2 separate regions of the Homo sapiens genome follow, and region 2 is reported to be linked to region 1. The links are microRNA targets in miRTarBase. Many come from high-throughput screens and were not tested one by one. Region 1 holds a microRNA gene; the other region holds the end of a gene's coding sequence.

Region 1 (7,992 bases):
CCATTTCCACTGCAGACCACAGGATAAAAGGACCGCTTCACCGTGGCCCAGGATACCCTTTTAAGTAGGAGGTAACTATTCAGTTTCGTAGTGGCCCATACATAAACTTGATTATGTTCTTCGTTGCTCCAATATACTATTTGTGTGTTTTGTTTTTTCCAGAGGGAGAAGAAAGTACTGCTTTGATCTAAAATTAAGCAAACGTTCTTCAATAAACCCACCATGAGACTTGACCACTAATGGTGACCAGCAGTGGCTTTGTCATGGCCCTGCCCACTGGGGGCAGGCACATGCCGGGGCCAGGGCAGGCTGCCAGCTGGTGAGCACGAATAGGTGGCTGGTGGAGCGCATGCAGTGGGAAGGGCAGATGGCTCCATTTTGATTTGTTAGCAGGCCACTTCCTCGGAAGGGGCTTTCCCTTCAGTGGGGTCTGCACCGCCAGCCTCAGCTGTCTTGGAGCAGATGTGTATAGTTAGAGATGGGGACCTTTTCACTGTAAATACTGCTCACATGTTCCTAGGCTGACTTTACTATGTGCAGAGCCTCTTCTCAAATATCCAAATCCCCTCTGTTGGGTACTACAGAACAGATGTTACCCTGCCTCCTATTACATTAATTTACGAACTTTACATATGCTGAGTTACGGACCCTAAGCTGTTGCATGTGCTTGGCTCTTATGTTCCAAAAAGTACATTTGTATGGTTTTGTGGAAACTGTGCTGTTCTGCTTTTGCAGTCTGTGAGATTCTGATTTTTTTTTTCTCATCAGCAATTATCCTTGTCTTGGAACATCAGAGCTTGAAGAAAGGGATTCTAGCAGCCCACCTCTCTCCTTCCTAATCCAGATGGTTAGAGGCTTAGAGAGAGGTGGTGGTTGCTCTGAGTTTACCAGATTCAGTGACAAACCCCTTCTAATTTCTAATCAATCTGGCAGCCTTCATTTACCAAAAGTTGACTTTTGATAGTATAACTTTTATACACCGTGAGACAACTTATTTTAAAAAACAGTTTAGAAATATTTAATTTTTTTTTGAAAGACTTTTTAAGGTCAGGCACCATGGGTCATGCCTATCATCTCAACGCTTTGAGGACTGAAGTGGGAGGATCATTTGAGGCCAAGATTTCAAGATCAGCTTGGGCAACATAGTGAGACTCTGTCTCTAAAAAATTAAAAAAAAAAATAGCCAGGTGTGGTGGCGCATGCCTGTAGTCCCAGCTACTTCGGAGGCTGAAGTGGGAGGATCCATTGAGCCTAAGAGATGGCGATTGAGTAAGCCATGATTGCACCACTGCACTCCAGCCTGGACGACAGAGATGTCAGAAAAAAATTAGTTTTATTATTATTAGTTTATAATAATATTATTTTAATATTAATATTATTTAATAATTTCATATTATTTATTATTATTAGTTTTATTATTAGCAAAACTGAGTGGAAGGCACAGAGATTTTCCATATTCTTCCTGCCTCTCCAACAAACATGTCTCCCTCATTATCAACATTTCTTCCCAGAGTGGTACACTTTTTATAATTGATGATCCTACACTGACACATCATCATCACAATGAGTTCATAGTTGACGCCAGGGTTCACTCTTGGTGTTGTACATTCCAGGCATTTGGACAAATGTATAATGACATGACTCCACCATTTTAGTATCATACAGACGAGTTTCACTGCCCTAAAATCCTCTGTGCTCCACTGATACTTACTCCTTCATCCCCTTGCTCCCTCAGCCCCTGACAACCACTGATCTTTTTATTGTCTCCATAGTTTGGTCTTATTTAATATTTTTTGAGGTTGCACTGTTGCCCCAGGACATCGTATGAGTAGAGGGTTAACCACCTTAGCCAAGAGTAATTTGGTCTGGTGAGTTCTCCACCTTCAGGACAAAAGCATTTCAGAACCATCCTAACAATAGTGTTCCCATAAGTAACCAGACACTGTTTGTATCCATAGCAACATGGCTCCATGAGCCCTGCTTCCGAGGAGCAGCTGCCCTTCCTGGGCACTGTCAAGAGTTGTTCTTCTCTGACATCCACACCCTTCTTTACCTGGCACATACCCCAGCCCAGGCACCAGGCATCCAGGGCCTTCTATGGCTGTCCGGATGCATTCCTTCACAGCTGGAATGTGGTTGGCTTGTTGACTTCTGTTCCCAGCATAGTGAACAGTGGGCACTATAAGCCAGTAGGCACTCAATTGATGATTCTTCAATGAAATAATTGATGCCACTTTTAGGTCAGTCTTTCTTGTACGTTACACCTTCTGTTGTTCAACAGAGCCCCACAATATCCCAGAACTTGGAGGTCTTATCTCGGGGTTTCTCAGATGTTGGAGTACCCAGGTATCACCTGCTGAGCCAGTTTCCCTGGCCTCACCTGCAGGGGCTCTGAGTCAGTAAATCTGGGGCAGGCCCAGTACTTTGCATGTGAGCACAGACCCAGGTGTTTCTGAACCTGGTGGTCCAGGGACTGCTGCAGGAAGGAGCCAATAGGACTGCATGCCTTAGAGGCAGTGGGTCTCATCCATCCCTATCTATGGCACTGACTACAGGCCATGTCCAGGCCACATGGGCACATGCTATTATAATTATTTTGTGTGATGGATGAGTTACAGAACTGGAGCCCTAAGACCTGAGTTCTAGTTTCAGCTCTGCCAGTTGCTGGCTGATTGAAACTGAACAAGCCACCTGCCTTCCCTGAGACTGTCTCTTCTCCTGTGAAATTAGGGCATTAGAATACATGAAGACCCCTTTATGTCCTTAATAACCTGTAAGTTTAAGAACCTAGGGAATCTCCATGCTGGTGGCTGCGGTTATATCCCCTTATCCTCAACTCGTGAAGAAAGAGTCAAAAATGGCAGCAGGGTTGTGTCAACTGCTCTCCTCAGCAGCTATCATAAGGGAATTGCCTTTGTCATTTTCCCCAGCCATCACCACACTCCCACACGGCCACCATCACCTAAACCATCTGGCAGTGGGGGTTACCTCCTAAATCTAAGACGCAGAGACCCACCGCAGGCCTTTCTTTCTGGCTGCCCTCCACTCCCACCCAGAGGCTCAGTTTTGCTGGGCTGCACACCTCCGAGGACTCAGTTCTTTGTGTTTCATGTTGTTTCATATCCACTAGTGTTACAGAAACTGCTGCAAACCAGGGACCAAAAGTCCATAGGTTCTAATTCTAGCTGTGACACTAGTGAGATGAGTGACTGCTGGCAAGTTACTTTATCTATCTGACCTCACCTCCCATGTACAAAATTGGGTCTGTATGCACATTTGTGGTTCTAAATCCTGGAGTCCAAATCAGAGTTCTTTGTGCAAAATATACGTAGCTAGGTCCTAACCTCGGAGATCCTGACTCAGTCTGGGGAAAGGCGCAGATCTTGGGGAGAAAACAACTCTCTAGAAGAGTCTCGCCTTCAGTGAGTGACAAGATCTCTCCTGTCTCTCGGTTCACAATGTTACCCTAACTAATCCATCCTCTGATGTCACCTGCTAACAACTTCCCCTGTGGCATCAAACCAGTAGCCCATTTGCAGCTAGTACAAACACTTCTTTACATTTAAGTTTTGTTTACGAGATTTAGCCTACAATCATAGAGGCTGCCAGCTGGGTTTCAAATGTGTATGTTCCATTGCTAATAGGAAAAACTGCATCTATTAGAAAAATTCTCTCTGGGAGCTGAGCACAGAGGCAGGCCTTGTATTGCAAACATTTGAAAAGCCATAAGCAGGTATTCTGGACTGTGTTTTAGATCACCTGAGAACATTTCTTGAACACTAGTATTTGCTTAGAGTGACAAACCTATTAAGTGGTTCTTTCAGGTAAGTTTGCATCCAAGCAATGTCGTCTGAATCGCAGGAGGAAGTCAGGAGTTGTGTCTGGCTTTCTGGCCATACAAATGGCATATGGGAAAGTCATTGTATATTATTAATATCCTTTGATGTATATTATTATGACTTTCTCACGGTAGTAATGTTGTTGGTTTTTATTAATGTTATTTTTATAGCAATGCTAATATTATGAGCTAAAAGTTTCTGAGCATCTGCTGGGTGCCAAAAATTCTTATAAATGCTTTACATGCATTAGCTCCTAACAACACTTTGAAGTAATTCTTATTGTCCTTACTTGACATATACAGGAATAAAAACCTGACCATTAGACCGAGCGTGGTGGCTCACGCCTGTAATCCCAACACTTTGGGAGGCCGAGGCAGGCGGATCACCTGAGGTCAGGAGTTTGAGACCAGCCTGGCCACCATGGTGAGACCCCGTCTCTACTAAAAACACACAAAAAATTAGCCGGGCGTGGTGGTGGGTACTTGTAATCTCAGCTACCCGGGAGGCTAATGCAGGAGAATCGCTTGAACCCAGGAGGCGGAGGTTGCAGTGAGCCAAGATTGCGCCATTGCACTCCAGCCTGGGCAACAAGAGCAAAACTCTTTCAAATAAACAAACAAAACCTAAGCATTTGAGGGGTTTGGCCTGGGCAGTGGAGCTTGTGAGCTATATGAGCTGGAATCTGAGTCAAGGCTGGGCTGGTGAAAGGAGTTCACTCAAGTTCCCAAGGTATTCTGTCCTCCAGGACTCTGAATCACCTGGGAGGAGAAGGAATTGTGGCGGGCCTAACACCTTTTCTTTCCCAAACACCAAGAGCAGGTTCTTTCTGTTACATCCATTGAGGTCACATTCTTGAAGTGCATTTTGAGGAAGTCATTATTTTCGCTACAGCAGGGACTGATGTATCAGTCTATTAGAATTCAGAAAAAAGTAAGCAAACAAAAAACGTGTTGGAATTATTCTCTTCTAGCATTTTGAAATGTACAATGGTTAATGTTAACTATAGCCACCATGATGTATTGAAGACCAGGTCTTATTCTTTTTATCTAACTGTACATTTGTACCCATTAACCTAATGCTCATAGCATCAAGAAAAGATCAATATTTAAGGTGACAAATATCCCAATTATGCTGATTTGATTATATGAATGTGTTGAATTATCATATGTACTCCCAAAATATGCACATCTAAGATGTATCAATAAAAATAAAGACAAAAATTAAAGCTTTTACAGTAGAAAAAAGGTTTTAGAGAAATTATGATTACTTGATTCACCTAAACTGACAGTCTTGCTTGGAATGAATTACTGCTTTTTGTAACATAGTTTTAGAAGAGAGATTCACATTTAATGTTACTTTGTGCTAAGCACTGTAATCCATGCCTGGGTGCTCACAGCGCTCCTCTGGGACCAGGCATCACCATCTCCTCTGTAAAAGGAAGGTCAGCCTGTTGCCAAGACCACAGGATAAACGGCTTGGCTGATTTAGGAAACCCAGTTGGTCTTATGACAAAACATGCGCATTTGCCCTTCACCAGGTGATTTTTCTGTAGGGTTATCTTCAACAGTCCGACAAAGCTGTGTTCCACCAGCTCAGGCAGGCTGTGACCAGGATCACCAGCCATGTGGCATCAGGAAGAAGGGGCTGTGTGGCCAGGCTCAATCTCTGGTCCTGCAGCCTTCTGCCTTTGGCTTTCTGAAGCGAGCTGAACTAGAGATTGGGCCCAGCTCGGCAGCGCAGTTTCAGGAGAGCCAGGATACAAACCATCCCAGTCTCTGTTCCCACAAAGGAGAAGCTAAACCATTTTTTATTTGCCCATTCTAAGTGCTAAGTGATATGCAACTGCTTCACATAAGCCTTCCAGCCTTCCAGCCGACTCTGCTTTCAGGAGATATCCTTATGTCCCTTTTGCATGGCTTAGGAGAGTGAAGCACGTGAGAATTGAACGAGGGGTCAAGGGTCACATAACACATGAGCACGAAACCGGGACTCTCCTGGGGTATCAGACCCCAAAGCCAGTGGTCTGCGCTTGATCTTTGCTAACGTCCGAGAAGCAATAAGTCCAGGGCTCTTGACACATTATTGTGCATTTTACTTTGGGAGGGACTGTGGGTCCACTCTGCTTTTAACAGGAGGAAATTAAATATTTACATTTGATTCCAGTTTGGCCCCATGACTGTCCGGCTTCTTTCCTGTCAAAGGCCCAAATTCCCTGTTTTAAAGTAGAGGGTGAATTTGTGTAATGAGGATGGATCGGGCACGTGTAGAACACACTCTTTCACCTGCAGATTCACACTCCAAACACAAAGAAATACTGGATCATATATGGTATATTTTAAAAGATGCCATAGGCATACTTAAAAAGCACAACAGAATTCTATTTTCTCACGTCAGAGGGCAGAGTCTTATGAGCTATTGAGAGGAAAACTGTATCTTAGGGGTTGAGAGCCTAACGTCTGCTTGGGGGTGTTTGTGGCCCTGGCAGCTGTTGTGTGCAGTGCACATTAGAACTGAGCAGCTTTATAAAGCCAGGAACAAGGGTAGAGTCCCTGTGTCTCTGAATAGAAATTAGCGATGCTTAGCCTTCTGTACCAAGGAATGCATCACAAAAGCTAATGCTGGGACTGGGCCTGGTGTGGGATAGGAGTCACACAGAGGAGTCAGAACGCCAACTGTGGCTGGTGTAAGGGGCCTCCATTCACACTGTCTTTGCTGTTTGGAAAATCTGAGCAAGAATTTAAGGTAAAAGCTGATGTGGAACAGCTTGCAACCCAAAAGTCTCAAGCCCAGCATAAAAATCATTGCTCCAGTGAAGATGCCTGCAGAGCTCAAGGCATTTCTGAGACTCCATGGGAGAATGATTCCTAAGGAAGGTGTGCCCCCAGCACCTGTGGAGACTCATCACCTTGAGGGCAAACAGACTCTGTAAAAGGAGAATTCACCTCTAAGGAGCTGCAGACAATAGAGGGATTAAAATGGGCCTTTGATCATTCAAAAAGCATTTTAAAGGAAAAAATAAAGTAACATAATCCAAATTCCAACAGGAGACTTGAAAAAGAAGGTAATAACAAAATGGAAAATAAAGTCACTGAAATAAAGCAAGTGAGTTGGACTATGAATGTCTCCTGTCCATTAGCTGTGTCCCCGGCTGCAAGGTCCATGGGGACTGTGCCTCCCTTGACCTTGAATCTCAATGCCTTAGCAAAGTGCCTGGTTCTGGGTAGGTTCACAGTACACATGTACCTCCCAAATGGATGGATTGCCAACTTAAATGTTCATAGGAAGGTGCTATTTTCAGGCACTTCAGGTGTGGACATCGGTGTTGTCAGATCTTTTCTGTTCTAGCCAGGCATTGTGGACATCACCTTACTATGTGAGGGAACAAGCTGCATTGGTGGAGAGGAAACCAGCAGGAGCACAATAGTGACCCATTTCTCTTGTCTTATGCACTGCAGTGGAAATAGCCCAGTGTGCATGGTGGATTTTATTATGGTGCCAGTAGAAAGATAGGGGGTTTCCTCTATGAGCTGGCTGACTTACATGAGCTCATTCTCTGCAGCATTTCTCTAGCCATCTCCTGTCACATCGTTTATTGTGTTCACTAGTCCTGTGCTAACGAGGATCTTTGAAAAATGACTGGTATGGTAATGATCTACGGAACTTACTGTAGATAGCAATTAAATATCGTTAACGGCGGGTTACGCTGACACATTAAAAGGCCTACAGGCTGCGATTTATGAAGACAGCTCTGCTGCCTCCTTTGTATGTGATGCATTTCTCTGGTTTCGGCTTAGGCTGTCTGGTCTCAGAAGGGAATGATTTCCAGGCTTTCCCCATCATCACTCCAGTTGCCAGGCCACCCACAATCACATTAGCAAGCTTTATTGTCCCTATTGCACCTCCTAATGCCCTCAGGGTGCTTGAGGTAGCTTTTATCAAGGTAAGGCCTAGGTCAACATTTTGTTGTGCAGAAAAGGCATCTGCTTTCAGAGGAGAAAATTTAGATACAATATTGAGGTGAATCTTATAAGTGATGTAAGATAATTTGATGACAAGAATTGAGATTATATGCTGAGATCTTACTGTCTTAAACTTTGTTGATTTCTGAAAATAATAGAAATGCAATCCTAGCTAAAGGAAGAGAAGTAGTCTA
Region 2 (7,000 bases), not on the chromosome of region 1:
ATGGGATGTAATGACCATTGTTCTCGATGCCAGTAAAGCCATGCCTGGGCACATGCCAAGAGGAGGTTGGTGTCTGTTTACAGGACCTGCTTGGGTTGGCAGTTCCCATGGGGAAGGGAAGAGGCGTGGTGGGAGCTTGGCCCAGCTTGGCAAACAAAGCCAGTGGGAACACAAGCCTGTCCTCCTCCATGGCCAGGGGTGGAAAAAAGAGTGTGTAAAGCCAAGCCCAATGCCCCTCTTTCCATCTGTCCCCCAGATGTCCTACGCTTCGACAACACCTATAGCTTTGTCCACGCCAAGAAGGTCAGCTTCACAGTGGAGGTCCTGCTCCCTGACGAGGGCATGCAGAAATATGATAAGGAGCTCACCCCTGTCTAGGTGGCTCCCTCATTTCTCAGAGACCTCCTAACCCTTTGATTTCTCTGTTTATATCCTACACTCCCTCCCTCCCTGAAATTGATTGTTAGTCCTCCTGACTCTGTGACGTTAGTGAGTACAGAAAGAGATGCCCTGGGGAAAACTCATCTACTGTGGTCAGATCAAGAAAGGTATGAGAGGCACAACCTTGGAGGGTACCAAGGTTGCAGAAGAGGAAAAAGCAAGGGTAAAGGCAAGAAGTGGGTGTCATGAAACTCAATAAATAGCAAAATGAATCCCCTAGCCTTTGTCCTCACCTACCCTAAGGCAGGTGTGTATGCTTGAATTCCTTCCGTATGGCTGTGAGCAACTTGGGTTGGAGACATATCTAAATCCTTTTTACTTCCACTCCCTATATATAGTAGATGCTCAGTGTATATTTGTGGCATTGAATGGAGGACCAGAAGGTAGGGTGCAGGTGACTCAACAGCTGTACATGATTAGGAGGAGCCTATGTGGGGTGGATTTCAGCACCTTGGACAGGAGCAGATGTGTGGTGGGGTTGGACTCTCTTCTGGAGACCCAGACAATTCAGTCTCCAGATTTCTGGCAGTGGCTGTCTTTTGAGGGCCCCAGCCACAAAGGCCACATGCCTCTGATAGGAGCTGCCTACATCAGGCTTTGTCTGACTTGCACGCTCAGCTTCCCACCCTAACCCACTTCCCTTGTTGCACATAGCTTATGTTTTAGGGACTTTCCTGGAAGCAAAGGCAGTCACATCTGGCATAATCATAATAAAGAAAACAACTATCATTTGGCGAGTGCTCTCTGTGTACCAGAAACTGTGCCAAGAGCTTTGTGAGTTTAGCATGTTTTATTCTCATGCCATCCCCAAGGCCCTTTATGGATAAGGAAATGGAGGCTCAGAGGGGTGAAGCTACTCACTCAACATCTTACAGCTTGGGTGGCAGATCCAGGACCTGGGGCAGGGGGTGTTCGTTTGTTTGTTTATTTGTTTGTTTGTTTGTTTTTTGAGACAGGGTCTCGCTCTGTCGCCCACCCAGGCTGGAGTGCAGTGGTACAATCATGGCTCACTGCAGTCTTGACCTCTTGGGCTCAAGCCATTCTCCCACCTCAGCCTCCTGAGTAGCTGGGACTACAGGTGGGCATCACCACACTTGGCTAATTTTTTTGTATTTTTTTGTAGAGATGGGGTTTCCCCATGTTGTCTCAAGCTCCTGGCCTCAAGTGATTTACCCCCCATCAGCCTCCCAAAGTGCTGGGATAACAGGCCTCAGCCACCATGCCTGGCCTGTTTTTGCTTTGTTTACTCCAATGACATTGCTCTCAGTTGCCTTGTAATACCGCCTCCTGCCTATAATCCCAGCCCTTGGGGAGGCTGAGATGGGCGGATCGCTTGAGCCCAGGAGTTTTAGACCAGCCTGGGCAACATAGTAAGACCACATCTCTATCAAAAAAATTTAATATAGTAAGAATATGACCTCCTAAGATTCCACTTTTACAAAGGCAGTGAGAAGGCATGATTTATTTGTTCTAGACCTTCCAGTAGAAGTGTCCTGCATGTCACCCTCTCCAGTCCCTGTTTGTGGGTAGAGGAGGTGATAGGCCATAGAGACCCACAATACTGAAGCAGCTTGTCCAAGGAAATTCACAGCAGAGTGGGGCAGGGCTTGTGTTCCTCAGCTCAGCATCCTGTCCGCTGCTCACATGGCATCTGTGAAGCACAACCCCCTGACGCTCACCATGACCCTGGGTGACTAGGGCAAAGGCCAGGACTCCAGAGTTTCCTTCCCAACTTTCTGCTGTGATTCGGGGACGTGAAGAGGCTGGCTTGAGCCCCAGTCCCTGACACAACTCTTGCCAGGGGAGCCGGATCACACCCGGGAATGGGGATGAATGGGAACCAAAGGCTGGTGCCATGAGAGGCTCCTTGGAAACAAACAAACGGAGGGCTGAGCTCATCCGTGGGCAGGCTATGAGGTCTGACTCAGGCTAGTCAAGCAAATATTCAGCAGCAGCAAGCACTTTCCCACATGCACTTATGGGTGCAAAATCTGATATCTGCTTTATAGATGGGAAACTGAGCTCCCAAAGGCACTGGCCTTGTATCTTCAGCCTACAGGTGACAGAAATAGTCCTGGAGCTAAGGCTGCCCCTTACCCCGTCACCTCTTCACCCCCACCACTCTTCTATAACAATTTGTCAGAATGGGACAAGACTGCCTTCTTCCTGAGCTGGCAGGGAAGGAGGAGGGAGGAGGAAGGAGAAAGGAAAAAGGAAGGAAGAGAAGAGAAAATGAGGGTTGTCAGATTTAGAAAGGAAAAAAAAAAAAAAGCATGGCCAGGTGCAGTGGCTCATGCCTATAATCCCAACACTTTAGGAGGCCAAGGCAGGCGGATCACTTGACGTCAGGAGTTCGAGACCAGCTTGGCCAATGTGGTGAAACCCCGTCTCTACTAAAAATACAAAATTTAGCCTGGGGAGGTAGCACATACCTGTAATCTCAGCTCCTCAGAAGGCTGAGGCATGAGAATCTCTTGAATCCAGGAGGTGGAGATTGCAGTGGGCTGAGATCACACCACTGCACTCCAGCCTGAGCAACAGAGCAAGACTCCATCTAAAAAAAAAAAAAAAAAAAAAAAAGACATACTTAAAATGTATCCATTGTTTATCTAAAATTAAAATTGACCTATGCATCTTATATTTTATCTGACAATCCTACCAATGAGGGAAGATGGAGGGAAGAGAGAGGAAAGGGAGGAGGATGGAAAGAGGGGGATGGGTTCACCTTCTTGGAAGACGGTGGCAGCACCCACAATTTGGGCCAATGATGTCATGGAATCCTTGGGAGAGGATGGCTTAGTGTGGGTGATGCAGGGTCGGGGGACAGGGTGGTCTCACCCTTGACCACCAAAGGAAAGGCCTCGATGTTGAAGCAGGGTCTGAGGTAGAGAGTGTGGACCCTTTGTGCCTTTGGGACTAAGATGAGCAGTGCTGTTGCCAGAGCTCCTCTGTGGCAGCTGAGTGGAGGGGACTTGCACCAGGAGGTGGAGCAGTGCAAAGAACCTAAGGCCAGGGCCAGAGCTGAGATCTGCAAAGTGCCCATCAGCATCCGCTGATGCCCACCCCTGGCAAGCCAGCTCCCACTGTGTGCACACAGCCAGTAAGAGGCAGGCTTCCCAAGCTCCAGCTTCTAGCCTCCAGTCTTACTCAGGGTCTAGATGCTCAGCTCCAGTCCTGAATCTCCAGGAGGCAGCATTGGGGAAGGAAAGAGACCCACTTTGTAGCTTTGGCCAATGGTCACTAATAGAGTTTGGATATTTGTCCCCTCCAAATCTCAGGAGGAAATGTGGCCCCCGATGTTGGAGGTGGGGCCTAGTGGGAGGTGTTTGGGTCATGGCGGTAGATCCTTCATGAATGGCTTGGTGCCTGCCCGCCATAATGAGTGAGTTCTTATTCTACAATTGCTTAAAAGAGGCTGGCACCCCTCCCCTCTTCTTGCTCCCTTCCTCTCACCATGTGACACGCTGGCTCCCCTTCCTCTTCTGCTATGAGTAAACGCTTCCTGAAGCCCTCACCAGAAGCTGAGCAGATGCCGGCACCATGCTTTCTGTACATCCTGCAGAACAATGAGCCAAGTAAACCTCTTTTCTTTGTAAATTACCCAGCTTCCAATATTCCTTTTTTCGTGTTTGGTGTTTGTTTTTTTTTTTTTTTTTTTGGAGACAGGGTCTCACTCTGTCGCCCAGGCAGGAATGCAGTGGTGCAATCTAGGCTCACTGCAACCTCCACCTCCTGGGTTAAAGCAATTCTCCCACCTCAACCTCCCAAGTAGCAGGGAACACATGTGCCTGCCACCATGCCTGGCTAATTTTTGTATTTTTAGTAGAGATGGAGTTTCACCATGTTGGTCTTGAACTCGTGGCTTCAGGTGATCCACACACCTTGGCCTCCCGAAGTGCTGGGATTACAAGCGTGAGCCACCTTACCTGGCCCAATATTCCTTTATAGTAACACAAAATGGACTAACACAGCCCCCTCATTCCAGAAGTGATAAGCTAGCAGCATAGGGCAGGAAAACCAAGGCCTGCAGGCCCCCCATTGTGTGAGAAGGAAAGTTAACTTAGAAGTTCCTGTTCCAACAGCCCAGAAATGCCAAGGCAGAGCCAGGGAAGGAAAAGTCTCACTGTTCTTGGGAAGCTAGAGTTGGTGGCCACAGGCCATTTCCCATAGAGGAGTCAAATTTCTGCTGAGGCCAAAAGGCGAGGCTCCCAACCGTGTAGACCTCAGGCCAGGGACACCGGTGGGCAACACTATGCTGGTGCTAATGAGGCCCCAGCCCTGCCTCTTACTCCTTCCCCAAGAACCCACCACCACACTGGCCCCTTCAGAGACCACAAATGCATGTCACAAAGTTAAGACATCAGGTTTTTCCCCTAACAACTAGTACCAAAAAGCACAAGGTTAAGGCAACACAGGCCAGGTGCAGTGGCTCGTGCCTGTAATTCCAGCACTTTGGGAGGCTGAGGCAGCTGGACCACTTGAGGTCAGTTCAAGACCAGCCTGGCAACATGGTGAAACCCTATCTCTACAAAAATATAAAAATTAGCTGGGCGTGGTGGTGCATGCCTGTAATCCCAGCTACCTAGGAGACTGAGGCAGGACAATCACTTGAACCTGGGAAGTGGAGGTTGCAGTGAGCCGAGGTCACATCACTGCACTCCAGCCTGGGCGACAGAGACTCCGTCTCAAATATATATAATATATTATATATAATATATTAAATATTATATATTATATTATTTAATATTTATATTAATTTATATTATATATTAAATATTAAATATAATATATTAAATATTAAATATAATATATATTAAATATTAAATATAATATATATTAAATATTAAATATTAAATATATTATATATTAAATATTTAATATATTATATATTATATATAATATATTGTATATCTATTATATAATATAATATATTATATATAATATATTATACATCTATTATATAATATATAATATATAATAATATATTATATATCTATTATATGATATATAATAATATATTATATATCTATTATATAATATATAATAATATATTATATATCTATTATATAATATATAATAATATATTATGTATTATATAATAATATAATATATTATATATTATTATATATTATATTATAATATATAAAATATATAATATACAATAATATATAATATATAATAATATATTATATATTATATATTATATATAATAATATTATTATATATTATAGATTATAGATTATATATAATAATATATATTATGGATTATAGATTATATAATAATATTATAGATTATATATAGTAATATTATAGATTATATCTAATAATATTATAGATTATATCTAATAATATTATAGATTATATATAATAATATTATTATAGATTATATATAATATTATTATAGATTATATATAATATTATTATAGATTATATATAATAATATTATTATAGATTATATATAATAATATTATTATAGATTATATAGAGAGAGAAACAAGGGTTATTTTTTCGTTGTCTTCTGAAGGGGCCACTGCCTCCAGGTCTTCCTCCAAAATAGACTGAGATTCCATATCAATTTCCTCCTCAGAAGAGAGTCTCTCTGTTGCGCAAGTCACCAGCCCCATCTTGTGGGCCTCCCAGCTGGCAGGGCACCAAAACAGAGCCTCTTAAGCTGCAGAGAGGGCAGGATGGCTGGAAGACCTCGAGTGCCTTCCTCAGGGTCACAGGAGCAGCAACAGAGTGACACCAGTGAAGGCCAGTGCAACCAGCAAAAAGTCCTTCAGCATCTTGCAGGAGGCTGGGAAGGAGAGGTCCAAGAGCACCCCAGGACTGCCCAGAGGTGCGGGGCAGGTTGTACAGGACAGCTAGGGTGAGTCCAGAGGTAGGAAAACAAAGGCCAGGAGTGCCTGGGGAAGCAAGGGTATGGCTGAGACCAGAAAGAACAGTAAGACAAGACCAAGCATGACTATCCATGAACCTGGACAGCAGTTGGGGGGAGGAGAGATTAGTTCTGTTAGTGCCTAGGCCCCCTAGACCCTGCACCTACCTTTAAACCATAACACTATAGCATCTTGACCTTCAGCAGGGCCGGGCCACCATATAGGTGTCCCCTTCCCCAGGAAACTCTGAAGAGAGTAAGCTGTCAGCCCTATCTCTCCTCCCTTTCCTGCTTGGAAGGAGGAAAATTCTTCCACGGCCATTAACTTCCCAAGGCAGGCCTGTGTTCAGCTGCTAAAAGCAGGCTGGGCTGGGCACGGCGGCTCACGCCTGTAATCCCAGCACTTCGGGAGGCCGAGGTGGGTGGATCATTTGAGGTCGGGAGTTTGAGACCAGCCTGGCCAACATGATGAAACCCTGCCTCTACTAAAAATACAAGAATTAGCTGGGCGTGGTGGTGCATGCCTGTAATCCTACCTACTCGGGAGGCTAAGGCAGGACAATCACTTGGACTCGGGAGGTGGAGGTTGCAGTGAGCTGAGATTGCGCCATTGCACCCCAGCCTGGGCAACGGAGCGAGACTCCATTTCAAAAAAATAAATAAATGAAAGGAGGCTGTGGC

Evidence for each region. Region 1 holds the annotated microRNA hsa-miR-7158-3p (CUGAACUAGAGAUUGGGCCCA, at 5,545-5,565, shown strand). A microRNA usually pairs through its seed, bases 2 to 8, with sites in the 3' UTR of a target mRNA and lowers its output. Matches are read on the target gene's strand: a 7mer-m8 pairs with bases 2 to 8, a 7mer-A1 pairs with bases 2 to 7 and ends in A, and an 8mer does both.
Region 2: miRTarBase lists SEC14L3 as a target of hsa-miR-7158-3p. The part of its 3' UTR that is shown has no 7-base or 8-base seed match.

The regions. Positions count from the first base shown.
Region 1 is chr2:5,969,168-5,977,159 of GRCh38, forward strand. MIR7158 (microRNA 7158) reads left to right here and starts at 5,495; the gene lies at 5,495-5,565. It overlaps SILC1 (sciatic injury induced lincRNA upregulator of SOX11), which reads left to right. Exons shown (of 2, transcript NR_026832.1): 2 at 1-7,992. RefSeq lists enhancers at 5,062-5,563, 6,443-7,096.
Region 2 is chr22:30,453,399-30,460,398 of GRCh38, reverse strand. SEC14L3 (SEC14 like lipid binding 3) reads left to right here. Exons shown (of 12, transcript NM_174975.5): 12 at 257-1,170. The coding sequence ends at 378. Among named protein-coding and RNA genes, the nearest start is that of SEC14L3, 15 kb to the left of the region's middle.